Regions from separate parts of the Homo sapiens genome. Here all the other regions are reported to be linked to region 2. The links are microRNA targets in miRTarBase. Many come from high-throughput screens and were not tested one by one. Region 2 holds a microRNA gene; each other region holds the end of a gene's coding sequence.

Evidence for each region. Region 2 holds the annotated microRNA hsa-miR-5190 (CCAGUGACUGAGCUGGAGCCA, at 2,262-2,282, shown strand). A microRNA usually pairs through its seed, bases 2 to 8, with sites in the 3' UTR of a target mRNA and lowers its output. Matches are read on the target gene's strand: a 7mer-m8 pairs with bases 2 to 8, a 7mer-A1 pairs with bases 2 to 7 and ends in A, and an 8mer does both.
Region 1: the mRNA of MPRIP is a reported target of hsa-miR-5190. Seed matches in the 3' UTR shown: 7mer-A1 at 2,204-2,210, 7mer-m8 at 2,456-2,462 and 7mer-A1 at 4,794-4,800.
Region 3: miRTarBase lists SSX5 as a target of hsa-miR-5190. Seed matches in the 3' UTR shown: 7mer-A1 at 1,580-1,586 and 7mer-m8 at 1,959-1,965.
Region 4: miRTarBase lists DENND2C as a target of hsa-miR-5190. Seed matches in the 3' UTR shown: 7mer-A1 at 1,437-1,443 and 7mer-m8 at 3,056-3,062.
Region 5: the mRNA of POGLUT3 is a reported target of hsa-miR-5190. Seed matches in the 3' UTR shown: 7mer-m8 at 1,631-1,637.
Region 6: the mRNA of SPART is a reported target of hsa-miR-5190. Seed matches in the 3' UTR shown: 7mer-A1 at 2,344-2,350.

What each region holds. Positions count from the first base shown.
Region 1 is chr17:17,184,221-17,189,310 of GRCh38, forward strand. It overlaps MPRIP (myosin phosphatase Rho interacting protein), which reads left to right. Exons shown (of 24, transcript NM_001364716.4): 24 at 603-5,090. The coding sequence ends at 674. Among named protein-coding and RNA genes, the nearest start is that of PLD6, 20 kb to the right of the region's middle. RefSeq lists enhancers at 581-1,081, 1,869-2,068, 2,099-2,168.
Region 2 is chr18:13,457,732-13,462,821 of GRCh38, forward strand. MIR5190 (microRNA 5190) reads left to right here and starts at 2,216; the gene lies at 2,216-2,295. All of the region lies in intron 4 of LDLRAD4 (low density lipoprotein receptor class A domain containing 4), which reads left to right. RefSeq lists an enhancer at 3,879-4,173.
Region 3 is chrX:48,183,121-48,188,210 of GRCh38, reverse strand. It overlaps SSX5 (SSX family member 5), which reads left to right. Exons shown (of 8, transcript NM_175723.2): 7 at 480-584; 8 at 1,355-1,991. The coding sequence ends at 580. Among named protein-coding and RNA genes, the nearest start is that of SSX5, 11 kb to the left of the region's middle.
Region 4 is chr1:114,581,514-114,586,595 of GRCh38, reverse strand. It overlaps DENND2C (DENN domain containing 2C), which reads left to right. Exons shown (of 21, transcript NM_001256404.2): 21 at 965-3,746. The coding sequence ends at 996. It overlaps BCAS2 (BCAS2 pre-mRNA processing factor), which reads left to right and starts at 4,981. Exons shown (of 7, transcript NM_005872.3): 1 at 4,981-5,082. The coding sequence starts at 5,005. It overlaps LOC105378914 (a long non-coding RNA gene), which reads right to left and starts at 4,753. Exons shown (of 3, transcript XR_947719.4): 1 at 4,197-4,753; 2 at 3,958-4,071.
Region 5 is chr11:108,470,689-108,475,688 of GRCh38, reverse strand. It overlaps POGLUT3 (protein O-glucosyltransferase 3), which reads left to right. Exons shown (of 8, transcript NM_153705.5): 8 at 737-3,573. The coding sequence ends at 862. Among named protein-coding and RNA genes, the nearest start is that of C11orf65, 5.7 kb to the right of the region's middle. RefSeq lists a cis regulatory region at 2,152 and an enhancer at 2,080-2,224.
Region 6 is chr13:36,299,560-36,304,649 of GRCh38, reverse strand. It overlaps SPART (spartin), which reads left to right. Exons shown (of 9, transcript NM_015087.5): 9 at 18-3,012. The coding sequence ends at 285. Among named protein-coding and RNA genes, the nearest start is that of CCDC169-SOHLH2, 4.3 kb to the right of the region's middle.

The sequences.
Region 1 (5,090 bases), not on the chromosome of region 2:
TATGTTTTGAAAATCTTACTAGATACGTTGGCGTGTTCCCACATCCCCATAACACTCACAGGCCTCTGATGAGGGAATGCCAGAAATGGGTCTGAGGGCAGCAGGTGCTGCGGAGGCACTGTAGGAGCGAGGCCCTGTCCCGGGACACCCATCCTGCTGGGGATTCCCTGGAGCATCTGGTCCTCCTCAGCTGAGGCTGTCAGGTGAAGAATCTCTGGAGCTGGATGTGGACAAATCCATTCACAAGACAAGACACGGGGATGGGCAGTCTCCTTGCTCATTGCACTGTTTTCCCTGGCTGGATTCGTTTGATCACTGCTTCTCTAAAGAGCCCTAAGCTCAGAATTTAGCTGCTTAAACACATGGTCTTGTCTCTCTGATTTTTTTTTCCTTTTTCATCCAAGTAATTTTGTGAAGGGGAAAACATCCTCCAATAACAGCATTTCCCGGGGACTCTCCTCCTGGCATGCCCACTAACCGCACCTGCACCCGGCTCTCTGACTGATGCCGGCTCCACCAGCGGTCCGGTCTGGTCCGGTCCGGTCCAGTGCAGGGGGTCTAACGGTGTGTTTATTTTCTCCTCCTGCTCTGTCTCTACCCAGAGTCTGAAGGAAGGCCTGACGGTGCAAGAACGGTTGAAGCTCTTTGAATCCAGGGACTTGAAGAAAGACTAGGTGTGTCCCATCCAAGTTGAGCACGCGCCTTCCCCAGCTTGCAGCAGCACACCCCAAGCGCTGCTTTTCACCTGTACCTTTGTTTTATTATTATTATTATTATTGCTGTTGTTGTCATCGTTAACTGTGGGCATGGAATGCGTGAGGCTGGCTTCTGGGTTGTCCACACCACTCTCTGCTGTGTTGACTTCCTGTTGTCTTCATCAAAGCTTTTTTCCGTGGTATTCTAAAATTAGGCCAGCAGTGGGGGCTGGGAGGGCATCTGTGTTAGTCCTTTCCTGGCTGTGACCCGCCACACTCACTGTCAGTATTAAGGCCCAGCAGCCTGTTGATAAGCTACCCTGTCTCACCATGTGCTGGTGTGGAAACGGGGCCCAGCCAGCACGCCTCAAGGTAGATGGAATCCCCACTGGTCAGAGAAAAAGCTATGCGGACACTCCAGCTTGGCCTGGGTCACAGCACTGACTCCTCACCCGCTAGTCTGGCTGTTAAGAGGAGAAAGTGCACTGCCTTCCAGCCCAGGAGGAGGACAGCATTTTGTATTTGTTCCACTGATGCAGCTTAGAACCACACCCCTGAGAGTCGTGGCAAACCTTTCACAACCTGGAAAATGTTGAAAGCAACCATTCCTATTTTTGTTTGTTTTTTATTAAATCTTGCACAAAATCCCCGGCCCCTCTCCTTCCTTCCTTCCTTCCTTCCTCCGCTCGTTCCTTTCTTGGTCTCCAGTAACCCTGGTCTTTTCATAACTGCTCGAGATTGTTGACCTGCAGCCCAGGTTTCAGACTCTGATTGCAAAAAACAAATGAATTCCCCCCAGGAATCATTCAAAATGGGGGAAGGTTTGGGGGTTTGGGTTTTTTTTTTACCTTTTGGAAAAGAAACCGTCACATTGCTTTGGAAAAGGTTGAGAGGAGACCCCTGTTAAGTCAAGAAGAAAGTACAGAGGATGTCAGAATCTGATGAGAACAGCACATTAGTGTTTATTGAGACTCCGATCTTAACTCTCATTTAATTAATCTGAGCTCTGAAAACCTATCTTGCAGCATTTATCTTTAAAAGAGCCTGGTTAAAGTAAACCTATACTAACAATTTTGCTTTTTCTAACAGTTTGAGGAAGACCTTTTTAACCACCACAAAACATTCTATGGCAATTCTTGAAAATCTCTTAAATTGGAGTCTATTATGGCCCCATGAAAACCATTAATCCCATTAAGATAGGGAGTATAAACCCCTGGCTGGTGGAACAGGTTCTGCTACTTTAGGAGCAAGGTGGGGTGTGAGTAGATGGTTTTCATGCCAAGAACATGCTTTCACTTTGTATTCATGCTTGTGTTGGTGTGATGGTCTCTGTGGGTGGGTGGATGCTTTGGGCGTTGAAATCTAGAAATCCTGTTGCTCAGTTTCTAGATGAAGTCATGAGCAAGGCCATCAGTGGAGCTCTGGCCCCGCCCCCAATGTGCAGAAGGGCCGGGAGCAAGGCCTGGAGTTTTCATGTGTTTTCAGACCCAGGTTTAGGTGCTCTCTTCTCACTGAAATAACTAAGTGCTCTCCACTGGCATCGAGCCCTTTCCACAAGTTTTTAAGGCTCTTAACCCACACTTTCACTCCTCTGCTACTAGTCTTCAGTGTTGTTAACAGCAAGAGAAAATTGGGTTTGTTTAAAAATCTACTTCTCTGAGGTGGCACAGTTGCGTAGCTGTAGTCCCAGCTACTCAGGAGGCTGAGGTAGTAGGATTGCTTGAGCCCGGGAGGTCGAGGCTGCAATCAGTCATGATCGTGTCACTGCACTCCAGCCTGGGTGACAAAGCAAGGCCCCATATCAGATATAGATATACTTATCAGACCCCCCCTGACCATTTAGATTGGCAGTGCTTTGAGAAATGCACTATGACCTTTCTGTGTCAATGGGAATATACAGAAGGAACATTCGGGACCCCGCTGTCCCCCACAGCCTCATTGTTGTCTCCAGGACACTGCTGGGTCACACGAATGCTCCAGGACAGACAGGGACCTGGAGTGCATCAGGATCTGACCAGATAGGAGTTTTTGCCTCGTGTCTGGGTGCTACGATTTTGTGCCGTTCTCTGAGGTCCACCACCTGCCCTTCCTGGCATGGTTTCCTTCGTGACCATCCCTGCTGCCCCTGGGGGTGGACCCCACTGGCCCTTCTGCAGACAGCTCCCTGCCTTCTGCCCTCCAGGGGGTTCTGGCCAGAGTCCATGCTTGGAGACAGGATCATCTGCCTTCAGCCCTCACAGTGCTTTAAATTAAAGCAAGTTTGCCCATAGGACAAAAGAGCATTTGATTCCCTTTTTTCTGTCACATATCCCTTGAGGCTGGACTTCAGGAATCCTGGAAAATTAATATGAGTGCAGCATGTGAGGGGTCAGAGACAGGCCAGCAGGGCGTCTGCATTCCTCCCTGCCACAGGTCTCTCCCCAGAGGCTGGTTTAGTGTAGGGTATTGCCAGGAAACGGACTGAGGCTGCTTTGCTAAGAGCTCCTGAAAATGCCCTGGGCCTGTCCTGGCGTTTCTGAAGAGCCCTCATACAGGGACAGCCACCATCTGGGTCAAGGAAGTCTGGGTTCCCTGCTGGTGGGCTCCATCCTGCGATGGAGTGAACCAGGCGAGAAAGGATGACGATGTTCTTCATGTTGCACCTGGACATGCCCCAGGAACAGAGACTTGCCCAGGTGGCAACACTGGCACAGATGTTGACGGCTGCCCAACTGGTGCCACACTGAGCAGGGAGCCTTGTGCTGCACAGGGCTGGGCCCTCTCTCCAGTTTCCTTCCTGCAGGCATCCAAATACCCTGGAAGGGATTTAACCCCTGAATTCCAGAGGGAAGAAAGAAGAACAGTGAAGAAGTAGAACTGGTTTCTGTATGGGGAGAGGAAAGTCTTAGGGACAGCTGCAGGCGGGGTCTCAGGCTGCTCCTTGGCACCAGCTACACAGTAGTGAGCTTTCCCAGCTTTACCGATGAGGAAGAAGTTCAAATAGATAGACTTCAGCATTTTAATTATTTTCCTATAAATGTATTTATGTGTAGTATGCTAGCACCAGCCAGTAAGCTGTGCCACACATATGAATGGGAAAGCGAGGCAGTTGTGCTCGTGTGAGTTTCTGCAGGCTTGTGGGTAATTACCTTGTGTGCACGCCTGCACGTGCAGAATAGTCACTTTCTGCTGGTCAGTTTCTTTATCCACCCATGGTGCCCCAGCCCCAGGCAGGTGTGGAGACCAGCATTTCAGAGGACGCGCTGTCCACAGCCTCCCGGGTCTGAGTGGATCATTGGGCAGGGGTGGAGACAGTGCGCTGCCCTCTGAGCTGGAAGCCTGTGCTTCAGGGAGTCATAATGGGCCTGTGCTAAGTGGGTGATGCAGTGGACATCCCAGGGCGACTAGAGGTGGCAGTATCGCGAATTTGCAGGTTTATTGAACAAGAGGTAACATCGGAGAGGATCTTGCCTTCGGATTCAGCAAGTATGAAGGCAGAAGAGCATGGAGAGCAAGGCCCCACAGCCTGCTTAGTGAGTTGGAAGGCCCAGCAAGAACCTGTTTCTGCAGCAGCCACCAGCTCCCATCACCCCTTGACCCTCCAGCTCATGCTGGAGAAGAGGGAATTTTGGCTGTTTAAAGAACACAGTTGTGAATCTCAGAATGTGCCTGAAAGGAATACTGACAGATAAGGCCGGAAACAAAACTGATGGCTTGAAAAACATTTTTATGGAATGTATTTACTATCATTTTGTTTTACTATAGAGGTAGATGGGACTCTTAACTTTTGGGTACATGGAAACATGCTGAAAACTGAACACAATCCTGATCATCACTCCTGCCTGGCTGTCTCCTGGGAGGCTGCCGGGTGCCACGGAGCTGGGACACAGCAGAGCCCGCTAGGTGTTGCAGGGCCCTGGAGGCCAAGGCCACCCTGTGTGGGGTCCCTGTTGGCAGCCAGGTCCCTACACAAACAAGTAATCCTGTTTGGCCTCCTAGGTTTTGCATATGACCTGCAGCCTAATTTGGGGTGTAGGGGAAGCTCTGCTGGCCCCTGCTCCTTTGTATGTTGGGTGACTTTAATGGCTGGCCACATACCCCTTTCTCCCAGCTACTCATTCACTGACTTGGGTAAGTTCTAAGACAGTTCGCACTTAGAAAAGAATGTGACACATCAACATTAACTTTTCCTGAAAAGAAGAGTTTGCCTAACATGGTCCTAAAGAAGCTTGGAATTTATAAGACTTTCCTTTATAAGATATAGTGGGGGTTTTTTTGGGTGGAGGGGGGTTGTTTTTTGTTTTTTGTTTTCAAGACAGAGTCTCGCTCTGTTGTCCAGGCTGGAGTGTAGTGGCATGATCTCGGCTCACTGCAACCTCTGCCTCCCAGGTTCATGCCATTCTCCTGCCTCAGCCT
Region 2 (5,090 bases):
CTCCCCAAGCATCCCAGGGCCCTCTGCTGTGAAGGCGGCTCCCCCTGCCTCGCTACCTGGGCCCCCGCTCCCCTGTGCAGTGTGCTTATTTCAGTGCTGGTCTGACTTGCTCTTTGTGGTGGTAAGCTCCATGAAGGCAGGACCATGCTCAGGGAGTTTCCTGTCCTTCACTGCCCCAGGGATGTGGCAAATACTTAATCAGTGTTTGCCTATGGAGTGAACAGGTCCATGAATGGTCTTGGAAAATGATGTATCCCAGCACCATGGTGGTGGTCATTCATACGTGTTCTCATGACTTCTTTGCTTTTCCTAATGGTGAGTTCGGTAGGCCAATTCATTTCTTGCTGAAAAGTGTGGTAAAGGCAAGTCTCCTAACTGGACCAAGACTACAGCCTGCAGAACGCGCAGGGCCTGGGCATGGGGAAGCACGGATGAGGAGCCTGCTGCTGATGCTGAGCAGGAGCCGTGGAGGGGTCTACACCACTCTGCTGACTCTGCGTGATGAGGATTCAAAATGCCATTCACGCAAAACAAATTTAGCAACTAAGAAGTAGAGCGGCGCGCTGCTTTAGAAGCACTATGTGTTAGCAGGTGTGGTACACACCTGACTTTGCTTCTGTGGCTGAGGAAGGGGAATGAGTCTTCTGTGCGTAAATCTTTCCACAAGCACCATCCTGGGTGTCCTGCCTGACCAGACTTGTGAGCCAGGGCCAGGTTGAAGCATGTGCCCAGGTGAAAATTATGCATTATTTATTCATGTGAGCAACTCTGCGCCTATTTTGAAACATTCACTGCTTTGTTTTGTTTGTTTTGTCTAATTGCATGAAAGATGTGGTAGGCAGAATAATGCCCCCCAACAAAAGGTGTCCACTTCTTAATCCCTGGAACCTGTGAATATGTTACCTTACTAGCAAAAGGGACTTTACAGATATGACTAAGGCTAAGGACCTTGAGTTGCAGAAATTATCCTGGACCATCCAGGCAGGCCTGGAGACATGAGTCCTCTAAAAACAGAGACTCTTTCCCAGCTGTGCTCAGAACCAGAGGTGACCACCAAAGAGAGATCAGAGCCATGCCATGTGAAAAGGACTTGACTTGCCATTGCTGGCTTTCCAGATGATGAAGGGGCCTCAAGCCAAGGAATGTGGGCAGCTTCTAGAAGATGGAAAAGGCAAACAAATATTCTCCCCTAGAGCTCTGGGAAGGAACACAGCTCTGCCACCTCCTTGATTTTCACCCAGTGAAATTAGTTTTGGATTCCCAACCTGTAGAACTGTAAAGTAACAAATTTGTGTTTTAAGGCCAGGTGTGGTGGCTCACGCCTGTAATCTCAGCACTTTGGTTTTGGAAGGCCGAGGTGGGAGAATCATTTGAGGCCAGGAGTTCGAAACCAGCTTGGGCAACATAGTGAGACTCCATCTCTACACCAAAAAAAAAAAAAAAAAAAAAAAAAAAAAAAAGCCAGGCATGGTAGGTTATGCTTGTGGTGCCAGCTACTCCGGAGGCTGAGGCAGGAGGATCACTTGAGCCTAGGAGCTTGAGGTTACAGTGAGCTATGATTGTGCCACTGCACTCCAGCCTGGTAACAGACTGAGACTTAGTCTGAAAAAGAAAGAAAAATTAAAAAATAACATTTGGTGTTTTTTTTTTCTTTTTGTTTTTGTTTTCCTGAGATGGAGTCTTACTCTGTCGCCCAGGCTGGAGTGCAGTGTGTGATCTCAGCTCACTGCAACCTCCACCTCCTGGATTCAAGCCATTCTCTTGCCTCAGTCTCCCAAGTAGCTGGAATTATAGGTGCCCGCAACCACGCCCGGCTCATTTTTGTATTTTTTGTAGAGATGGGGTTTCACCATGTTGGCCAGGCTGGTCTCAAACTCCTGGCCTCAGGTAATCTGCCCACCTCAGCCTCCCAAAGTGCTGGGATTACAGCTGTGAGCCACCGCACCCGGTCAAATTCGGTGTTTTAAGCCACTGAGTTTGTATAGCTTGTTATAGCAGCAATAGGGAAGAGATACATATGGCTTTGTCTATAGAAAGATATTGCTTAAATAAAAAGAAGAAAACCCTTCCAGGTCTACATTTTCTCAGGCAGTGCTTGCGCTTTAAGGAGCACGTGCAGGATATTTACATCAGCAGCAAGTATATGAATCGTAGCCTAGTCTCATCGTTAGAGGTGCATAAACTCAAGGTAAGCATACCCTAAGTTTCCGCTCAAGGTCATACCCTGGCTCCAGCCCTGTCACATGGTTAATGTTCCACAGCCAGTGACTGAGCTGGAGCCAGGGCCACTGCCCCCACGTCGTCACGCCATGGTCATTGTCATTTCACTGCAGTTTCTCCAGCTTCCTTTTGAAGAGGAACACAAAGGAGAGGTGCTTTGCAAGGATACAGTATATTATAAGAATAGGGACATGTTTGAAACTAGTAGTTAATGAACATTATTTTCCTAAATTCATAGCTTTTATTTTGTTTTTTTTAAGAGACAGGGCCTCACTCTCTTGCCTAGGCTTGAGTGCAGTGGCGCTATCACAATTCACTGCATCTTTGAACTTCTGGGCTCAAGGGATCCTTCTGTCTCAGCCTCCTGAGTAGCTGGAACTACAGGCACACGCCACCATGCCTGGCTAATTTTTGTGTTTTTTGTAGAGATGGGGTCTCACCGTTTTGCCCAGGCTGAGCTGGAACTCCGGGCACAAGCAGTCCTCCTGCCTCAGCCTCCCAAAGTGCTGGGATTACAGGCATGAGCCATGCACCCGTCCTTAACTGATAGTTTTAGAGCAGTCCATTAGAGTGGACCCATGTCATCTGACGAAGCCATGTGTCTGTTTTGTATTTTCTAAGAGATTTGGTGCTGAGTAAAGAAAAAGAAAATTCTTCATATCTGATGAGAAGGTAGTGCTGTTGAGAGAGACCAAAAAAGGACAATTAGTGATGAGGGTATTTAAGGCAGACAGTTCATACCTCCTGAGTTTTTGGAACATGTGTCTCTCTTTGGTAAAATATTTTGGGGATAATCCCTATTATATGTGTATTTAATTATTTTAATATTATATACATATACTATTATAAACTTCCTAAGATAAACACAAAATTATAGATTTTGCTGAAGAGCAAAATAAAAATAAAATTGTTCTCCCCTTTTCTTCCAACACCAAATGAATCAGCCCACTGGGGTGTAGTAGGCAGCTCTGCCTGGAACTGCCTGCCATGCCGCCCTCTGTGTGCCTGGAACAGCCTGCCATGCTGCCGTCTGCATGGCCGGGGCCCTTCTGCAGCCCCCACTGCACCAACCTTTGTCCGCCTTTATTGTTGGTGAACACAGTGCCCACCTCACCATGCTGGGGTGGCCTGGCTTGCTGTCTCTTGAGTACCGTGGGAACTGAGGCGGGCTGGCCTTGTCTCCCCAGCGCCTGCTCACAGAAGGTGCCCCATGATGTCTGTCGTGCAGATGAATGTGTCCACGCGTGCTGGGCTAGTACAGAAGATCGGTAGGCAGGGGTCTTCGTGGCCAGGGCCTGAGGAGGACCGATAGCCTTGGGGACTGCATGGGTTTTGAGAGTCTGGGGGAACCAGGGGGAAGTAGGAGGACATAGTAAACAAAGGTCAAGAAGAGCGAGGAAGACGTGGGGATGGGGACACGTACCTGACTGAGGAAAATGGATTCTAGGAACACAAACGTCATTGAAGAAGGAGAGTGTGTGTTACTGGTTGAGGGTGTCCTGGTCCTTGGCATCTTGAACAAATAATCAGACAAAACACACAAACAAAGCAAGGAAAGAATAAAGCAACAAAAGCAGAGATTTATTGAAAACGAAAGTACACTCCACAGGGTGGTAGCATGCCCTAGCAAGCGGCTCCTGAGCCCGGTTACAGAATTTTCTCCGCTTTAAAGACTCTCTAGCGGTTTCCCATTGGTTACTTGGTGTACACCCTATGTAAATTAACTAGTGGCCTTTGATCAGTCTGATTGGTTGCAGGAAGGGGCCAATCAGAGGCTGAAGCAAAGTTACAAAGTTACACCCTATGCAAATGTCTGATTGGTTGCAGAAAGTGACCAATCAGAGGCTAAAGTGAAGTTACAAAGTTATACTCCTATGCAAGACTTGGCCCCTGACCAGCCTGATTGGTTGTGGGAGGGGTCCAGTCAGAGGTACTTTCAATTTTTCATCTGCCACACAGAAAAAGTGGGAGGGGGCAGGGTTGCAAGGGAGTAGCCTCTGGTCCTTGTGTTACTTGGGCATGGAAAGTTGGGGTTTTCCTTTTGATTTAGTTCTAGGAAGTCGGTGTGAATCGGCCTTAGGTTCCCTTCCTCCAGATCCTATTCTCCTGCCTCATGGGGTCACTGCTTGCCTGGGTGGATGAGCTGGAGCTTCATTCTGTGAAAGCAGTGGGCTGGCTTCAGATCCCGTGACAGCTGCAAGCACAGCAGAACCAAGGCAGGCACTTGTGGACTTCTTCACTGGCCTCAAAAAAGCAGGTGGTGTTGTCAACTGTGGTTACACTGGACAGAAAGAACACTGTTACCAGGGGCCAGGTGTGCAACAGTTCTGACTAGGGCCGTGGGAGTAAGGCCGGGAAGCAAGGGGTCCATGCAGTTACTCTGAGCTGAGACGAGCAGGCTGACCGCTAGACTGGGGGCCACAGGGGGACGGGCCAGGGATGCATCCAGGTGTCAAGCCAGGGTGCATGGTAATGTGACTCTCCAGACCACACAGCCAGGTAGGGGGCTGGTTTTCAGGATGAGATACCAACTTTGGTCTAAGAGAGGTGACTTCTACATAGGGCTGTGAGACAGGCACTGTTCAATAAGCAGTTGGAACTAATTTTTTTGGATTTTAATGATTCCAAAAAAGAAATCTGGGAGCTACAGAATTAGCATTTATCTTCTTCCCTTAACTGATACAAATTCTTCTATGCCAAGCCTTGAAGAGCGCCCAAGAAAGGCGTATATCAATGCGGAAGGTGGGAGTCCAGGAGGCCAGTGTGGGCTCAGTCATGGTGGCTGTCACGGGCGGAGCAGGGACAGCAAGGATGTCTCCCAGAAATGCAGAGAGCCTGAGCAGAGCCCCGCCTGGGAGCTTTTCTACAAC
Region 3 (5,090 bases), not on the chromosome of region 2:
CAATTGCAGTAATAATATCAAAGCTCACTGATCACAAATCACCATAACAGATATAATAATAATGGAAAAGTGTAAAATTGGTGAGAATTTCCAAAAAAAAAATTGCAACATCTGTGAAGCAGTATGAAAATGAGGTGCAATAAAACAAGGTACGCCTGTGTGGCCTTAATAAATACGTGCTGAATGAAAGGAGGTAAGGGTGAATGTTCCCGTAAGTGAAGAGGTTGGGAATCTAAACCTGACAACGGAAGGAGCCAGAAGCTAAAACTTTAATTTGCATTTGGCCTGTATTGGTGTGGGTCTAAGGTCTCAGCCTCTCTAAGCCAGAGAATGTGAAAAACTGGATAAAGAAGACCCATGGGCACTTGGTGGTGGGGAGGCATCTCCTTTTTTGGAGAAAACAGAGCCTAACACTCTCCAATCAACCCAACCCTCTCCAATCTACCCAACCCTCATCTTCCAACTCTTCTCCATCATAGGACCCAAAAGGGGGAAACATGCCTGGACCCACAGAGTGCGTGAGAGAAAGCAACTGGTGATTTATGAAGAGATCAGCGACCCTCAGGAAGATGACGAGTAACTCCGTAAGTGAACCTTTGGCTCATCTCCCACATCCTTGCAGATGTGCTATTCTGTTATGGTACTGGTATCCCATCTTATCAGTTGTTCCCCAAATCATTCCCTTCTCATAATTTTCTAGGGTACAGCATTGAGGCTGAATGATGAAATTTCCCATGTTTTTTTTTGTGGGTGGGGGAGTCTCCTTTTGTTCCCCCAGGCTGGAGTGCAGTGGCATGATCTCGGCTCACTGCAAGCTCCGCCTCCCGTGTTCACGCCATTCTCCTGCCTCAGCCTCCCCAGTAGCTGGGGCTACAAGCACCCGCCACCACGACCGGGTAATTTTTTTTCTTGTATTTTTAGTAGAGACAGGGTTTCGCCATGTCAGCCAGAATGGTCTCAATCTCCTGACCTCGTGATCCATCTGCCTCCGCCTCCCAAAGTGTTGTGACTACAGGCGTGAGCCTCTGCGCCTGCCTAACCATGCTCTTTCTACTCCCTGCCCTCTATATCCAGGGATCCTCCCTACCCAGGATGCTGTGGGTTCCCAAACCCCAGGTCAGCACTGATATGCGGGCCACACCTTCCTCTAGCCTAGGAATTGATAACCCAGGCGAGGAAGTCACTGTGGTATGAGCAGATGGTTCACTTCAAGGAACCATGGAAGGCGTGTACAGGTCCTGAGGTAGGGCAGAATCGGAGTGGGCAGGGTCTGCAGGTCAGGAGGAGTTGAGATTGAGTTGTCATGTGGTGGGAACTCACTGCCACTTACTTTCCTTCTCGCTTCTTGCCTCAGCCTCGGGGATATGACACATGCCCATGATGAGAAGCAGAACGTGGTGACCTTTCACGAACATGGGCATGGCTGCGGATCCCTCGTCATCAGGTGTATAGCAAGTGAAAGCAAGTGTTCACAACAGTGAAAAGTTGAGCGTCATTTTTCTTAGTGTGCCAAGAGTTCGATGTTAGTGTTTCTGTTGTATTTTGTTACAGTGTGCCATTCTGTTAGATATTAGCGTTTTCACTGATGAGCAAGACATACTTAATGCATATTTCAGTTTGTGTATCCATGCACCTACCTCAGAAAACAAGTATCGTCAGGTATTCTCTGCATAGAACAACACTACCCTCCTCTCTTCCCAGATGTGACCACTGAGGGCAGTTCTGAGTGTTTAATTTCAGATTTTTTCCTCTGCATTTACACAAACACACACACATGCCACACAGACACACATGCGCGCGCGCGCGCACACACACACACACACACACACACACACACACACACACCAAGTACCAGTATAGGCATCTCCCAACTGCTTTTCCCCATGTGTCCTGGTCAAGCCCCCCTCACTCTGTTTCCTGTTCAGCATGTACTCCCCTCATCCGATTCCCCTCTATCAGTCACTGCCAGTTAATAAACCTTTGCAAACGTTCCCCAGTTGTTTGCTCCTCTCATTATTGTGCACACAGCTCTGTGCACTTGTGTGAATATTTCTTTAGGAAAGATTCTTAGAAGTGGAATTGCTGTGTCAAAGGAGTCATTTATTCAACAAAACCCTAATGAGTGCGTCCTCGTGCTGAGCGCTGTTATAGGTGCTGAAGAGACATCAGGGAACAGGGCAGACAGATGTTCCTGACCACCATTCTAGAGGAGGATGTTTCCAGTTGTTGGGTTTTTTTTGCTTTTTTCTAGAGACAGGGTCTTACTCTGTCCAAGCTGGAGTGCAGTGGCATGATCATAGCTCAATGCAGCCTTGATCTCCTGGGCTCAAGCGATTCTCCCACCTCAGCCTCCAGCGAAGCTGTGACTACAGGCACACACCATCATGACCCACTAATTTTTTCAGGTTTTGTCAAGAAAGTCTCCCTATATTACCCAGGCTGGTCTCGAACTCCTGGGCCAAAGCGATCCTCCCATCTTGGCCTCCTAAAATGTTGGGATTACAGGCATGAGCCACCGCAACTGGCCTCCAGTTTTTATTTTGATAGAGACTATACACTTCAGTCCTGGAGCAGTATTCTGCAGCAGGTGGTTGGGAATCTTGGCCTTTGCTCTCTGAACGATTTTCGGGTTCTAGGGCTGGGACGGTCCATTTGGGAGTATGTGGTAGGAGACACAGATGAAATCATCATCTGGGGAATGCAGAGGGATGGGGAAGATGCGTGCACTGTAGACCCTGTGATGGCCAGGGAATAGAAGAGTTCACTTAGTCTCCATGCGGGGGAGCAACGGTGGGAAAGTCCCCTGGACAGAAGCATGAGACTGCCCATCAAGGGTCTCACCACCCAAGGGCCTGGGGGCTGGGGTGGAGACGATGATTTGGGAATGGGACAGTTCTTTCTCACAGGTACCACTGCACGGTGCAGAGGTGAAACAGTTGTGGGGAAGGGAAGGGCAGAGGGGAGTCTGTTTTAGAACAAACCATTGTGTGTGAATGGAGACATTAATGCTTGAAACACAACGGACTTGAAACAGCAGCCCCAGGTGGAGGCAGGATTGGAGCTGTTTTGACCATTCATACCCCATCACCTTGGCCTCCTGGTTCTCCCCAGCCTTGGAAGGAGAACACTATGATCATTATGCCTATATGATAGATGAGAGATAGAGTCCCAGACAGATGGTAGGTGTCTTGTCACAGGTCCTACAGCTGGCAGGTGCAGGAGGAGCTGAGTTTGGAGCTCACTGACTTCAGAAACATTAAGGAGGACAGGTGTGTGTGGTGGAGGGAGGGAGAATTGAACAAACTCCGGGTTCTGTCCCCAGTTGCAAGGTAGAGGCTGTGGGTTCATTTTCCCAAGACAAGGAGCCCTAGGAGAGAGAGAGTGCGGGGAGGGAGAGGCGGTCATGGTCACAGCAGGGACAGTGGGAGACAGAGATATGCAGGGTGGGCAGAAGAGGGGCAGGCAAAGAAGCAGGGGATACCCAAGGCCAAGTGTGGGCTGTCACAGCCACCAGAGGGAGAGGGTGCCAGGAAGGAGGTTGTGGGGCTCCAGGAGCAACAGAGGTTCCCCAGATCTGTGAGCATGCCCTGCCTGGCACTTCAGGAAGAGATGGCTTCCACCCAGGTCAGTGTGGACGTGCCTCTACCTGTGTCTCAGAAGAAACAAATTCTATTTTATCCCAATATAGTTCTGTATTACACAAATGTAACATTCCGATACTAGATATTGAGTGCCTTATCCTCCATGCAAAGAGGAGAGAATACCCTAAAAGAGATACTGAAGGATTTGACTTTTCTTTCTCCCTGGGATGATGGGATCCATAAGTTGGGTCCCCCAGCCCACAAGACAGGTGCAAGGAAGGGTGGCTGGAAGATTGTGAGTCATGACAGGGAACATTTTTCCTTAGGTTCCTTGGGTATATAAAGCTCCCGACTATCTGTCTATCATGGATAAAGAGTGAACATGGTCCCCTCTCCACAAATGTGTTTCTCTACTTCATTATTACTGTGAAGGGCTGAAGTTACACCAAGTCCTGATACATTTCTTTTTCGTGTTTTTTTTTTTTGAGACAGTATCGCAGTCTGTCGCCCAGGCTGGAGTGCAGTGATGCAGTGATCGAGGCTGCTCACTGCAGCCTCGATCTCCCAGGCTCAAGGGATTCACCCACTTCAGCTTCCGATCTAGCTGGGACTACAGGCACACACCACCACACTCAGCTGGTTTTTGTATTTTTTTGTAGAGACGGCATCCACTATGTTGCCCAGGGTGTTCTGGATCCCCTGGCCTCAGGCAATCTTCCTGCCTCAGCCTCCCAAAGTGCTGGGATGACAAGTGTGAGCCACCTCGCCAGGCCTTCAGTTTCTTTAATGAATAATTATCAGAGTTTCATCTTAGAGGCAAAAGTGGCTACTGCCAGCCAATCTGTCTGTGGTGTTGGAGGGGAATCTGGCTGATTCAGACGTTTCTGATGAACTTTTAAATTAACTTACATGATGATTTTCCTAAGGCCCTTTCCAGCTCCGTGTTTTCTTTGATTCAGGGTTTGGAGATTTTCAGAGGCTTTGTTACAAAGAGCGTCTCCTGGGCGGTCGCGGTGACCCACACTGTAATATCAGCACTTCGGGAGGCCGAGGCAGGCAGATCACTTGAGATCAAGAGTTTGAGACCAGCCTGGCCAACAGGGTGAAACCCCCGTCTCTACTAAAAATACAAAAATTAGCCGGTAGTGGTGGCTGGCCTGTGAATTCCAGTTACTGCAGGGAGTGAGGCGGGAGAATCCCTTGAACCTGGGAGACGGAGGGTGCAGTGAGCCGAGATCATGCCACTGCACTCCAGCCTGGGCGACAGAGTAAGTCTCTGTCTCAGACAGCATCTCTCGCCTATAGTGATTTGAGCTGTGGTCTTGTCTCCTTGGGTTTCTCTATCAGTCTGATCCCATCTACTCTGTCTCCCAGGTATGCCTCAGTATTCCTGGTGGACCACTGACACGCTTTCCTATTTTCCTCTACTGTTAAGAATTGACCCTTGAAAACATTTTCATCCCAGTTCAATGGAATGTTGAGTGGGGCATGGGATCTATCTGCCATCTT
Region 4 (5,082 bases), not on the chromosome of region 2:
ACCATGATGCTAGTTTCAAAGTGTTTTGGAGAAAAAGCAGCATTTTTCTCAAAATTTGGGATCCCTCATCAGAGTGGTCTGTGGGGCCATTTCCCAGAGATGAACTTCCCTGATATAAGTTTATTTATTTCATGATATGTTTGCATATCATCATTATTAATCATTTCTAGGACACATTCCTTGGAGAATCTTATAAAAACCATGGTCCTTTTTCCCAGAAAAATGTATTTACAGCATATAAATAAATTTTGCACATAATTTTAGGCTGCTCATATACCCCATGAAGTCTATCTTTGGTACTCCAGATTAAAAACACTTGGTTTAGAGGGACTTCTGAGGCAAAAGAGGATTTCTTACAAGTCTCTAATTTTCTACTTCATACAGAAACACATTTATGATTTTTCAGTAATAGTTAATTAGTATGATACAAGAGAACAGGGGTGTGGCTAGCCTAAAATAATGAATAACCTATATGCTACGATATTTATATTTTGTCTTTGAAATATATGCCCCCTAATTAGGCCCTGTCCTTCACTAGCTGACAGACCATGGACAAATTAGGCCTTAGGCTGTTATTTCATCTTTATACAATGGGGTTAGATTAGATCAGTGGTTCCCAGCTCTGACTACATTTTATAATTTCCAGAGAACTTAAAAAAAATTTTCCCCTGGGCTCCAGGAAATCTCTGGGGAGAAGCCAGGTGATTTTAACCTATAGTCAAGGTTGAAAACCACTGGATTACATGATGTCTGAGTTCTTTTCTGCCGCTACAATTAACTAGACATATGGGGTTTGGGGTTCATTTTTGTTTTTGTTTTGGGGGTTAAACACATCAACTGAGTTTGAGATGTCAGCTTAACTCTTGGGCTGTTCTGAATGACTGACCTGTTAATCCCTTACCTCAAATAATGTACAATAAATAAAAATGAATTGAGCATTCACTGTACTTTTCTTTCCCTTTAGGAAGCAAAATGAAATTTCTGCAAAAGAAATGAAATCTCTGATTGTCTCCATCCTGAATATACAACAGAAAGTGCCAAAGAAAATATTTTTCTAAGGGTCAGGATCCCATGAAGTATTCTACAAAATTCTTGAAATTTTAAAAGGTTAAAGAGCGAGTCAGGCTGTTAGAGGAGGATTCTCCTGTTGCTGCTGTAGTAATCACTGGAGAATTGTTGGGAATGGTCTGGCACCATGCCATCTTTACTCTGTCTCCATTTTTTTTTTATAGCAGCCTTTTCTATGTGATTCTTGGGCTCATTCTCTGTTTTGTGCTTTGTCTGTGAAAGTAGTTGTGTTTCACAAGGAAAAGCCTTGTTGTTGTTACATTTAAAAAATAGCTCAAAGATGAGAATAATGAGAGAAATGCTGAGTTTAAGGTAGTAGAGAGACATGATGGAAATGGAGAACACTAGCCTTATACACATAATTCTCATCACTGAACTATCATGGCCCCTTTAAACCCATGGGCTGTTTGACCTGGGCTAAGGAATAGACTCATCACATATCTCCATTGTTTTGCCTTATATTATATCTAGGGGAATCTCACTTAGGAGGAAGCCCTACTTGTAATATTATAAGGTACTGTTATTAAGTACCTTATAAAATTAGACATCTTGCAACTCCTCCTCCAAATTATGTGGCATTTGAGTAGTTTGCTTGTGCCTCACATGTCAACATTAAACTTTGTGGAGGCTGGATGCAGTGGCTCACACCTGTAATCTCCACCACTTTGGGAGGCTAAGGCAGGAGTTTGAGGGTGGGAGTTTGAGACTAGCCTGGGCAACATAGCAAGATCCCATCTCTACAAAAACATTTTAAAAATAAGTAAATAAATTTAAACTTTGTGAAATTATAGCTAATATGAAAATGTCCTTTCAAGGGCATGGGAGCCACCTTTATTTTTTAGTGTCCACCATGTGCCATGCACTGTGGTATATGTATGCATATCATCTCAACCAATCCTTAAATCAACCTTATGAGATAGATATTTGCATCTCCATTTTACTAATAAACTGAGGCTGGGTGCTATGGCTCACGTCTGTAATCCCAGCACTATGGGAGTCCAAGGCGAGTGGATCATTTGAGGTCAGGAGTTCGAGACCAGCCTGGCAACATGGTGAAACTCTGTCTCTACTAAAAATACACACAAAAAATTAGCTGGGTGTGGTGGCAGGTGCCTGTAATCCTGGCTGCTCGGGAGGCTGAGCCATGAGAATCGCTTGAGCCCAGGAGGCAGAGGTTGCAGTGAGCCGAGATCGCGCCACTGCATTCCAGCCAGGGTGACAGAGCGAGACTCCATCTCAAAAAAAAGAAAAAAGGAAAAGAAAAAAGAAAAAAACAAATTCAAAGAAGTTAAATACGTTGCCCAAAGTTGTACAACACAGAACTGAAGCCAAGACTTTTATGGACACAGAAAAAGTTGGTTAGTCCTACAGATGGAAATTTCATCTCAGTAGGATTATATAGCTATTTCTTTTATTAATAAAAATTTTCTATTAAGTGTACCAGAGCCACTTTTCAGCTCTGAGGATAAGGAACTTTATAGGTGCCTAGATGAGACTCTTTTTATTCCCCTAGAAATGTTGAAATTTTTGCTCTAATTAAATTAGACTCAAAATATGAACATTCCTTGAACATATACCACTTAGTCATCCAGACCTTTAATATCTAAAGTAGTAGTAGTAGTGATTGGAAAGAGAAAGTTTTCAGTGATGGTGCAGTGTTTTTTTTGTGTGTGTATGTGTGTGTGTGTGTGTTTTGTTTCGGTTTTTTTTTTTTTTTTTTGAGATGGAGTTTCGCTCTTTTTGCCCAGGCTGGAGTGCAATGGTGTGATCTCGGCTCACTGCAACCTCCGCCTCCCGGCTTCAAGCAATTCTCCTGCCTCAGCCTCCTGAGTAGCTGGAATTATAGGCACCCGCCACCACACCTGGCTAATTTTGTACTTTTAGTGGAGACGGGGGTTTCACCATGTTGGCCAGGCTGGTCTCGAACTCCTGACCTCAGGTGATCCACCCACCTTGGCCTCCCAAAGTGCTGGGATTACAGGCATGAGTCACTGCACCCGGCCTGTGTGTGTGTGTGTGTGTGTGTGTGTGTGTTTTCAAACTCATGGGCAAATTCAAGTTCAGATGGTGCACTTTTCATTGATTAATGTTATAGCAAATGTCAGTTTGTTTTCTTCAGTTTCTGCTGATGGTTTTAACTGGCACAGAAAGTATTTATTCAACCTTACAAAACTGTGTAAGTTGTATTGTGATACAGTTTATTGACTTGTACAGTATTGTCATTACAACCCATTCAGGTATGCATGAATCTGAAGCAGAACACCATTTAAGACTGGTGCTGTATAATATAATTCCTACAGATGTGGGTCCAGGGAATAGAACTGAGCCTGTCTTTTTTTTAATGTTAAGCAGGTTACCCCCAGTGGGGCTTCTACTAGACATCTCTCCATTTGGTCTCTTCTTACACTCCAACCCAGCAGGAACAGTTAATAATTGGATGTTTATAAAATGGGGGTAAAAGGGTTTACTGTGATGGATCCTGGCTATCCCTCTAGGAGGAGACCTTTGCTTCAGCAATGGTGTCTTCATCCTCGCAGCCTGAAGCTGCTTCATTTCCTTAGGTCTGTTGTGTTTTCTGTAAAGTGTTAGGAATTCTGGATATTTTTGTAAAAGAATCAAGATTTGTATAAAATGTTGTTTACAGATCTTTTAATGAATAAATACATAAACCCCCCACAGATCCCTTGGAGAATTCTTTAAGATCTTTTATGTCACTTAAATCTATAGCTAGCACATTTACCTAATGGTACTTCGGTAATAAGAATTAGTCTTAGACTGACCAGGCTTAATAACGGAGGTCAACATTTCCAGGCTCTTGGCAGACAAAGGCTGGGTCTAGACTGCACACTGGGCAGGGCATATAGTCTGACAACTTTATTTGGTTTTTACCTGCTTAATCAAAGGGAGGCTGCTTAGTCCAGGAGCCATGCAGAAGAGAGTGCATGGGCAGCAGCTTGAGTGGTTCGGAGGCAGTGAGGAATGCCATTCTATTACCGTTAAGTCCTAAAGGCAAAATGACAGGATTTTTAAGGAACTGAGGTTCCTTTTGATACGCAGACCATAAAGCTTCACAATTTTAATTGGAGACTGGCGCCCAATTCTAGAGTCTCTTTAAAAAATGTACTTACCCAATGCAAAGGTTTTAAGGGCACCGAGGGGGAAGGATAGTTGGGGTACAGCAAGGAAGTAAAAGAGGAATGACCCGGGGTGCAGTGGCTCACGCCTGTATTCCCCACATTTTGGGAGGCCAGGAGTTCGAGGCTAGGCTTGGCAACATAGAAAGGCTCCATCTCTACAAAAAAAATTAAAAATTAGCCAGGCATGGTGGTGTGCACCTCTAGGCCCAGCTACTCGGGAGGCTGAGGTGGAAGGATCGCTTGGGCCCGGGGGGTTGAGGCTGCAGTGAGCTATGATCACGCCACTGCACTCCAACCTGGGCAGCAGAACAAAGACCCTGTGTCTACAATAAAAAAGGAAAAAAGTCTCGCACAGAGGAAGAGAAGATTAAGGGGAGAAGGTGGGAGTAAGCAGAGGTGGGAAACCAGTTTATCTCTCCCCGCCAAATGCTGCAGCCAGTTCCCTCCAAAAGTGTTAAGGGGCTCCCTTTCCAGATATCAATGTTTTGGAGGAAACGAAAAGCCCCAACTTCAAATCGCCGCCATTCGCAGGCAAAAAAAGGGGCAGTAAGCAGAGGACAGGAAATTGAGGCCTTTCGCTGACGCAGACAAGCCAAGACGTTACGTCACGTCCGCCCAAAACAAACCAGCCCGGCAATTTCTAGATACCGGGCGGACCCGCCTTCAAAATTAGCAACTGAGCATGCACTAACGTCAATACGGAGGGAACGTGATTACATCAGTGTCAGGCGCCGGCGTAATTAAATATAACTGAGTTTACGCAGACGCAGAAAACGCAGGCAAACCTGAGGTCCTCAGAATGGCGGGCACAGGTTTGGTGGCTGGAGAGGTTGTGGTGGATGCGCTGCCGTATTTTGATCAAGGTTATGAAGCCCCT
Region 5 (5,000 bases), not on the chromosome of region 2:
AAGACCAGGCTGTGCAACATGGTGAAACGCCATCTCTACAAAAAATGAAAAAAATTAGCTGGGCATGGTGGTACGCGCCTGTAGTCCCAGCTACTTAGGAGACTGAGGTGTAAGGATCACTTGAGCCTAGGATGTTGGAGGCTGCAGTGAGCCAAGATCACGCCACTGCACTCCAGCCTCAGTGACAGAGTAAGACCGTGTCTCAAAAAAAAAAAAAAACAAAAACAAAAAAAACTCCATTTATAGAAATATTTCACTCAGGGCCACAGTGGAGGAACATTACACAGACCTGTTGCCATTCAAAAATGCGTGTGACTATAGGCCTAAAAGAAAGAATGTGTGAGACTGCCAACTTTTCAGATGGTTATCTTGTTTGTTTGCTGGCTTGAGTATTCAACAAAGTTAATTATTCAATAACAAGTGGAAAATAAATGCTGAGAGCTGCTGTTTGTTTCAGGTAGGGACGTCTGGCTTGGCATCCCTTTTGTAGAGGCTTCCAACCAACACATAAAATTGTGGATTGGGGTTTCTTGCTAGATTATGAATTATAACTAGTGCCTGTGATAGCTAAAGTTAAAATGTAACTTTAGGACTGGAATAAACCAGACCTTTGGTTTTAGTCTGCAGACACACAGCAACTAGAAAAGATGGCGTGACTGCGGATGGGAGTGGGTGGGGGAGTCAACAGAATGCAGTGTGAACTAACCTTTCAGTTCCCTTTAAACCCACGTTTCAGAAATATGCCGAGCGCCAGTCCAGCAAACCCGAAGTACGTGATGGAATGGAACTTGTTCCTCAGCCAGAAGATAGCACAGCCATCTGCCAGTGCCACAGGAAAAAGCCTTCAAGAGAAGAACTTTGAGTCAGCCCAGAATCACACTCCTGTGTATCCCGGCTACACTTTAAGGAAAGATTGAATCTAAGCTGTGAAGGACAGTATAGAAGACTGCACCAAGTGGACTAGTTCTCCCGGTGGCTTTATATATGTAGATGGATATAGCAGTACTGGTTGAGTATCCCTCATCTGAAATGCTTAGGACCAGGAGTGTTTCAGGCTTCAGATTTTTTAAGATTTGGGAATATTTGCATGTACATAATGAGGTATCTTGGGGATGAGATCCAAGTCTAAACACAAAATTCATTTATATTTTATATATACCTTGTTCACATACCCTGAAGGTAATTTTATATAATATTTTTAATAATTTGTGCATGAAACAAAGTTTGTATACATTGAACTGTCAGAAAGCAAAGGTGTCACTATCTTAGCGACCCAAGTGGTGGTGTCAGCACTCAAAAAGTTTTGGATTTTGGGGTATTTCAGATTTTAGATTTTTGTATGAGGAATGTTCAACCTGTATTTGAACAAGCATTACCAAATATCATTGAATATTAATATCTTTTGCGTAAAAACTGCTATTATCAGCATCATAGTTTCTCTAAAAAGAAAACTTGGGGATCATAGCCGATAGAGAGACTTGCTAAAATATAAATCAGCCTCTGCAAAACTGTTTACATATTTATTGGTTTACATATTTTATTGGTTTATTTCTATCCCCTGTTCACTTTTTCTCTTCCACTTCCAATTATGAAGAGAAAATATTTGTTCAGGGTTGTCCCCCCGCCCCCCGTCACTGCATAATTTCTCCTCTTACAAGCTGCTTTTGGCTTTCATTAATAACAGCTTCCTTTTAGAAGGTCTGATAAGGATATTTAAGGAAGAAGAGAATGACTCTGTTATTAAAGGTGGCATGGAGACTGTGGAGGGAATATTTTTTAAAGCACTACTCATATCCTTTAAACTAAATTTTGCCAAAGCCCGAGACAACATTAAGGAGAAATTGTACCTTAAGTTAGTAATTCCAAATCTATCTGAGTTGTATACCCATCAAAGACAATACAGTTATTAACATAGATGAAGGTATGCTATAGGCATCATTCATTATCTCTATATTGAATAGGTGAAAGATAACTGTAGTCAGGTGAAAGGCATTCATTATTTTTAAGCTGAAAAGGGGATCCTTGAAAACACTGAAAACCTCTACAACAATCTTCAGGAAGCCTGCTATCTTGGGATTCACTAATAATAGGCCAAGAACAAAGGCAAGCATCCATTCCTCACTCCACCACTTTTCTATTTCAGTGGGTGTCGTTGCTACGATGAAGACTTTGGAAATTTCCTTTCTCTTTTAGGACAGGGTCAGGATTTAGGACTCATAGCCTGAAAGCTCATTACATACTCCTTGTAACCATCAGTCCAAGGTTCAGTTCACTAAAGTGCATGTTCTAAAACAAGAGCTATCCTCATTCCAAATTTTAAAATATGTACTCTGGCCGGTTGCAGTGGCTCACGCCTGTAATCCCAGCACTTTGGCAGGCCGAGATGGGCGGATCTTTTGAGGTCAGGAGTTTGAGACCAGCCTGGCCAACATGGTGAAACCCCGTCTCTACTAAAAATACAAAAATTAGCCAGGCATGGTGGCATTTGCCTGTAATCCCAGCTACTCGGGAGGCTGAGGCAGGAGAATCACTTGAACCTGGGAGGCAGAGGTTGCAGTGAGCTGAGATTACACCACTGCACTCCAGCCTGGGTGACAGAGTGAGACTCCATCTCAAAAACTGAAAATAAAAATAAAAATATGTATTCTCCTAACTGAAATATTTACTTAATCTGGAAAACAATGTAACTATTTTTAAAGTGGTTACATCTATTCTTGCTGAAGAACAATAAACAGAATTTTTTGACTAAGCATAACCAAATTTCAGAACAGTCTAATCAATGCCAAGTATCCAAGGCAAACTCTAATACCCATCCATTGTGCAAAACCACAAGCACGCAAGTATTAAATAAGAGCAAGCTGTCCTGAGCCCATACCTAATGAATTTGTGTCTTAAATATTGTACATTGTGTTTGAGGCTTGTCAAAACTGGGATTATGGCAAGAAAGGTTGCCTAACTCATACCTTTCTGCCTCAAATTCCAGGTGCTAAAGGCTAATGGCATTTTAAACATCTTACATTTTTAAAAATTTATATTGCCTCTGCCAAACAGGCCTAATAGTTAAAAGCAAGTTGAGACAAACCAGGCAGATTCAGTGTGTGGAACAGGAAGGATGTGCTTTAAAAAAAGGTGGAATCCCTCAAAAAATTCTATAGGGAGACAGCAGCCTTAATCTACATAATTCTTCATCTCGCCAATTCAGCCGCAGCCTTTAAAGAGTTAGTGTTAATGGCTTTCTGGTTTGAAAACAAAAATGCATCTATGTGGTTGAAAGTTTGGGAGGAGATTCACCAATATCTGAGGAGAAGATGGAGTGAAGGGAATTCTTACTTTTTGCTTTATACCTTTCTATAATATTTAGATTTTTTTTTACTGTAAGTATGGATCAAATTGCAAAATAAAGAAAAATGCCAACCTTAGAAAAGACAATAAATGCACAAAAGATATAAACAGGAACAGCAAATATTTATATTTTTTCCATTTTGCTCTTTTTAAATCTATGTTTAGAACTTTATATCTTGGGACTTATGTATATATATACCTTTTAAATAAAATAAATTTTCTAAATAAAAAGTTGAAAAAGATACCTTTTGTTTTTTAAGAAAGAGGTTGTAACCACTTATAGCCCTGGTATTTCTGTAACTGCATTGGTCTAATTTTGATTCTATTATGTCTTCATGAGTAAATGAACCAAAATCACCACTCAGTCCCTAAAGGGCAGAAATCTATAATAACATTAGAAGAAAGAAAAGGCCAGTCACGGTGGCTCACACCTCAGCACTTTGGGAGGCCGAGGCAGGAGGATCACTTGAGCCCAGGAGTTTAAGACTAGCCCTGGCAACATAGTGAGACCCTCAACTTTACAAAAGAAAAAATTTAAAAATTAGCTGGACATGGTGGTGAACACCTGTAGTCCCAACTACTTGGTAGACTGGGGTGGGATGACTGCTTGACCCCAGGAGTTTGAGATTACAGTGAGCTATGATCATGCCACTGCACTCCAGCCTGGACAACAGAGCAAGATCCTGTCTTGAAACCACCTCTGCAAAAATTATAAATGAGAAAATCATTACAGTGAAAGAGATCTGACCTAACCAACTCCATCTTGATTCTAACCTCCAAGCTGTCCCTGTTTATTCCTGGGCATAGGCCAAACTAACCTTGGGAGGAACTTAGTTTATAGTTTAACTTTGAAACAAAGATGGTAACAGCGCTTTCCCAAAAGAAGCCCTCTTCATGCCTGAGGATTAGACTGCCTTTGCAGGACTAACAAATTAGCTGAAACATAGAAATTATGATTTAGGATTCATACATCTGAAGGCTGCCAGACTTTGAGCCTCCTCAAATTGCTCCTGGGGATAACATCACTATTGTAAACCTAAAATCAGTGCTTGAGATATTTTGCAGACCCTGCACTTGATGATTCCACTAGCATCACTCAGATCAATAAACTGGCTTATCTGGTCTTGTGGCCCCGACCCAGGAACTGACTTAGCATAGGAGGACAGCTTCGACTCCCTTTGATTTCATCTCTGACCCAACTAATCAGCAGCTCCCCACTTTCTGATCCCCTACCCACCAAATTGTCCTTAAAAACCACAATCCCTGACATTTCAGGGAGACTGATTCAAGAAATAAAACTGCGGTCTCCCATACTGCCAACTCTGCAAGAATTAAACTCTATTGCAATTCCCCTGTCTTGATAAATTGGCTCTGTCTAGGCAGCAGACAAGGAGAACTCATTGTGTGGTTACAGTCTCAAAAAAAAAAAAAAGAAAAGAAAAGAAAAAATATTTAAGCTTGGCACCATTATTTTTGTTGATGGTGAAAATACTAAAAGGGGCCAGGCATGGTAGCTCACGCCTGTAATCCCAGTACTTTGGGAGGCCGAGGTGGGTGGATCACAAGGTCAGGAGATCGAGACCATCCTGGCTAACACAGTAAAACCCCATCTCTACTAAAAATACAAAAAATTAGCCAGGTATCATGGAGGGCGCCTG
Region 6 (5,090 bases), not on the chromosome of region 2:
TAATCTTTCTTTTAAAGATACGGATATAATGCAGGAGAAGCTACCCACCATGCGGTGGATTCTGCGGTCAATGTTGGCGTAACTGCCTACAATATTAACAACATTGGTATCAAAGCAATGGTGAAGAAAACTGCAACACAAACAGGACACACTCTCCTTGAGGACTATCAGATAGTTGATAATTCTCAGAGGGAAAATCAAGAAGGAGCAGCAAATGTCAACGTGAGAGGGGAGAAGGATGAGCAGACGAAGGAAGTAAAGGAGGCAAAGAAGAAAGATAAATGATGAAGTGCTGGGAATCACTTATACCAAAGCCTTATGAAATGGATGAAATTTTGTTAAATAGGCAAATGTGGAATTCCTCACAGATTAACCAGTATTTTTTAAATGTATTCATTCCTACAAATTAACTTTCATAAATTTTATGGCATGTCTTCTATTTAAAAGGAAAAGAATAAGTATTCTTGCATCTGGCCTTAGAAATGTGAAGTTATATTCTCAAGTTTATTTTTTTCCAAGTGTAGCTAAAATATTTTTGCAGGTAAAATAAAGCTGATAGTACATGTGTTGTTCAAACCTTGTTAAACCTAATATTGAACTATTTTTATATCTGCTGTCTTTCAGAAGGCAAATAGGAAACTATATATTTGCTTAAAAATTGGCATTTAGTAACCTTAATTCTTTTTATAGAAGGAATGACTTAAAGTATTGTCCCCTCTTTTTGCACTAATTGTGGATTTTTTTAGATGCTTCTCAAAATTTTCAGTGTGTAAGCTAAACAAAAACTAAAACTAAGAATTCTCAAAAAAACTTGTTCAAAACAGGGAAAGACTGATGAAAAGTAAAATGGACTACTTTTGTAACTTACCTGTTTGTTAGGAAATGGAATGGTCTCTTTGATTTAAAATAAATAAAAATAGATTATTACGTCTTTTGTATTGAGACTGTATTGTTATGAGCCTAGGAAATTTGGGAACATGATTGTATTGTATTAAAATTCGAAGTGATTATTATCAGCTTAATTGGATTAAAAAAGTACTTCAAGAAATTATTTTATCATATCTGCTTCTGTTTTTCCAAAAGGTTAAAACTTGTAAAAAAAATATATATAAACAATTGAGTTTACTAATGGTAAACATTTTTATTCTGGGATTCGGTCATTGGAATTTATATTAAAAGACAAGTTATTAAAAAGGAAAGGTTCTATTCATAATCAGGGTAAAGAATATGAAAACCTTAGACGTAATCCATGGTGGATAGGCATTATGGTTTCCACTTTGGCAGAAGGCAGACTATTCACAGCCCTATTTACTTACATAGGCTAAAAAACTATGTAACTAAATACCTAATGGTATTTAATTTTTGTTTATTGAATTTAAGAGATTGGTATTAGTTTTCATAGCTGTAGTCCATTCTAATAATTTCTGATCTTCTAGTGGCTACTTAATTAGACATTATTTGAAGCTGTCTGAAGAATGCACTTTATGAATTAAAAAACTGAATTGCCTGACCTCGTTATCACATGAGCTTATATTTTGGGAACACATAGAACTGATGGAGGCTTTTCCTAAGGCCAAGGATAATGTACTAGTTGTTAAAATGGAAATAAAAGTGAAGTGGTAAATAGCTTACAGACAGTCTATGCTTTGTTTAAGAAATGGAATGGCACTTCATATATTCTCATTTGTGGGAGCTAAAAATTACAATAATCAAACTTAAGGAGATAGAGAGTAGAATGATGGTTACCAGAGGCTGGGAGGCATTGAAGGGATGGGGAGGGAAGTGAGGTTGATTAATGGGTACGAAAATATAGTTAGAACGAATTTGTTGTAGTATTTGATAGCCCAACAGGGTGACTACAGTCAACAATAACTTTATACATTTAAAAATAAAAGAGTGTAATTGGGACGTTTGTAACACAAATGAATGCTTGAAGCAGTAGATACACCCTGATGTAATTATTATAAATCGCATACCTGTATCAAAATATCTCATGTATCCCATAAATATATACACCTACCATGTACCCATAAAAATTTAAAAAGAAATGGAATGGCAAATAATGGAACATAAACTTTAAACAGTTAGCTTTGACCAGAGGTCAGCAAATATCCTCCATGGGCTAAATCCAGATGTCCACCTGTTTTCATAAATAACGTTTTATTGGAGCATAGCTGTACCCATTTGTTTACATATTGGCTATGGCTGCTGTCTAGTTCAACGTGAGAGTTGAATAGTTGCATCAGAGAGTATATGGTCCACAAGCCTAACTTATTCACTCTCTGGCCCTTTGCAGAAAAAGTGTGCTGCCTTAGTCTATAGAAAATGGACTTTTCCCACCATTCACTGACTCATTAGGAGATAGGCATCTTCTAAAGATTTTTTTTATATTGTGTAATGATTGATATATAGATAAAATTATATATTACTTGTAAGGTATGATGAATAACAACACTTAAAAACTCATCACACCTAAAGACATGGAAAGCTGCCAATTACCTATATGTATGTTCTTCCTATTTTCTTACCTCTTTCCCCATGTCATTTTTTATTGTTCCTTGCCATTTTTTAATCACACATGTATGTTCTCCAAACATACTGTTTCATTTTTTGAAGCTTTCTACATATAGTGTCTGAATGTGAAGTCTTACTCAACTTGCTTTTTTGAGTTTATGTTTAAAATTCATTCTTGCGCTTATATGCATGGATGGTTTACTTGCTCTATAGTATTCTGTGTGAGTATACCACAATTTAAGTGTTCATTTTCCTATCAGTTGACATTTGTTTTTAGTTTTTGTTGGTAGAAACAGTACACTCAAAACATCCTTGACTGTCCCCTGGTACACATATGCAAGAGACTTTATGCGTAAGAGTGGAGTTGTTGGCTTGTCAAGTTTTGCAAAATAATGCCAGGTATTTTCCAAAATGATGATATTCTCTTGAGTATTACTTCCCTTTGCAATGTTTTTATTGTTAATGTAGCATATATAAAAAAGTATCTCATAATTTTAATTTGTGTTTTCTTGACCTCCTTTCCTGACCTTAGATCAGTAATTTTTCATGTTCATTTGCCATTCATTTGCCTGTGCTGTAAAATTTGCGTGTTGTCACTGCTGACAATTTTGCTTCTCATGTTTAGGTGTTTACTGAGAATTGTGTATATGTGTGCAAGAGGTAAGGTATCTAATTCCTCCCCTCCTCCCCCACCCCGTAGATAATCAGTTATTTAACCCCCATTTATTGAATAGTTCTTTTCTTCAGTAATTTCCCACAGGTCTTTCTCTATATATAGAGTATGAGTGTTTCTGGGCTCAGACGTTTGTTCCATCTGTCATTTCTTTTGTTCCTGTGCCAGTCCCACACTGTCATCATTGTAAATTAGTAAGCCCTACTGATTGTTAGGGCAAGAGGCTCAATTCCCTCAACCAAATTCTTTAGGAGTATTTTGGCTGATTAAACAAGTTCCATAAGGAGTTTAAAATCTTCCCACAAAGAAACATCAGCCCCAGATGGACTTACAGGTGAGTTCTAACATACCCTAAGAAAATAATGTTACCTTGGGTGCAGAGGTGCACACCTGTAATCCCAACACTTTGGGAGGCTGAGGTTGGGTGGATCTCTCGAGTCGAGGAGTTTGAGACCAGCCTGGGCAACATAACGAGACTAAAGATATTGTTGGACATTGTGAATTTTACCTTATTGGGTACTGGATGTTTTGTGTTCCTATAAATATTCTCGAGTTTTGTCTTGGGAGGGGATTAAGTTACTTAGAACCAGTTGGATACTTTTGGATCTTTCTTTTCAACTTGTTAGGGCTAGTGTTTTTTCCGACTCCTAAATCAAAATCCTTTGTGTACCTGATGCCCTGTGAATTCAGAGGTTTTCCATTCTGGTGGGTGGTAGCAGGTATTATTCCTACCTCTGTAAACTGTAAGGATTTCCCCTCTAATCCTTTGTGATGGTTCTTTCCCCAGCCTGAGTACTTGCCCCACCATGTGTGTGCATTCATCAGTATTCTGCTGCAGAGTGTACCTTGTGGCAGGCCAGGTCTCATTAACACAGGCCTCCATAACAACTGTTTCAGTACTGACTTGAGTGGCTAAGTTAAATACTAAAAGCTAAAAAAACCAAAGCCCTTATACAAAGGCTGGAATGTAATAAAAACCCACCAAGAACTAGGTCTCAAAGCATGACAAAAAAAAAAAAAAAAAAAAAGAAGGAATTCTTAGCTGGACCCATTTAGGATTAAACAAGTTTTTTGGGGTTCTGAAGGAATCCCCAAACCTCCCTGATTTAGCAGGAGACAGGGGTAATCACCCTAGCACCTGGACCCATTTAGATTAAGTTTACTGAGGCTCCAGAGGAAGGTCTTCAGGACTCAAGACCTTAGTTGTAGATTATAAAAAGTTAACCACTTAATGTCTATAGATGAATGCACACTTACACATAGACATATAGCTTAGAAGGTCTGGAAAACTGTAATTTTGAGTTGGTCTGGTTATAGTTTCCAGGGCTTCTGCCTGTAACTGGTTCCAGAAATAAAAACTCTCTTCCTCCCCAGTTCATCTACATGTTCTTACTGGGTCACAAGAAATAGCAACCCAACCCTCAGTTTGGTCTGGGAACACCCTGTGCAGCTCTCCCCTCCAATATCTGCCCTGCAAAGTCTAGCTGCCTTGTTCTCTCTAGACTCTTAGAGAAACTCCGTTTCCTCAACTTAGGGCAACCACCAGCCTCTGCCTGTTTTCTCCCTTTCTGCTTTGTACCCTGGCAGGCCCAGGCCAATTTGGGAGCTTGCCTCATTTGTGTCTCATCTCTTGGTGATCGTTTTCCCTTATTGCCTGATGTTCAATGTTCTTTTTTTGTTCCTCTTAGTTTTTTAGTTGTTTCAGGCAGGAGGGTAAATTCAGGTCCTTTATCTCTGCCAGAAACACAAATCTGTGGTTTCTGTAGTTGTTGACAAACCTGTTTTCTGCTTGCCTTTGCTCCTAATTTCCCACAGTGAGATCCTGCTAACAGATCTTTTTAAGAAATCCTCTGGGTCGGGTGCAGTGGCTCATGCCTATAATCCCAGCACTTTGGGAGGCAGA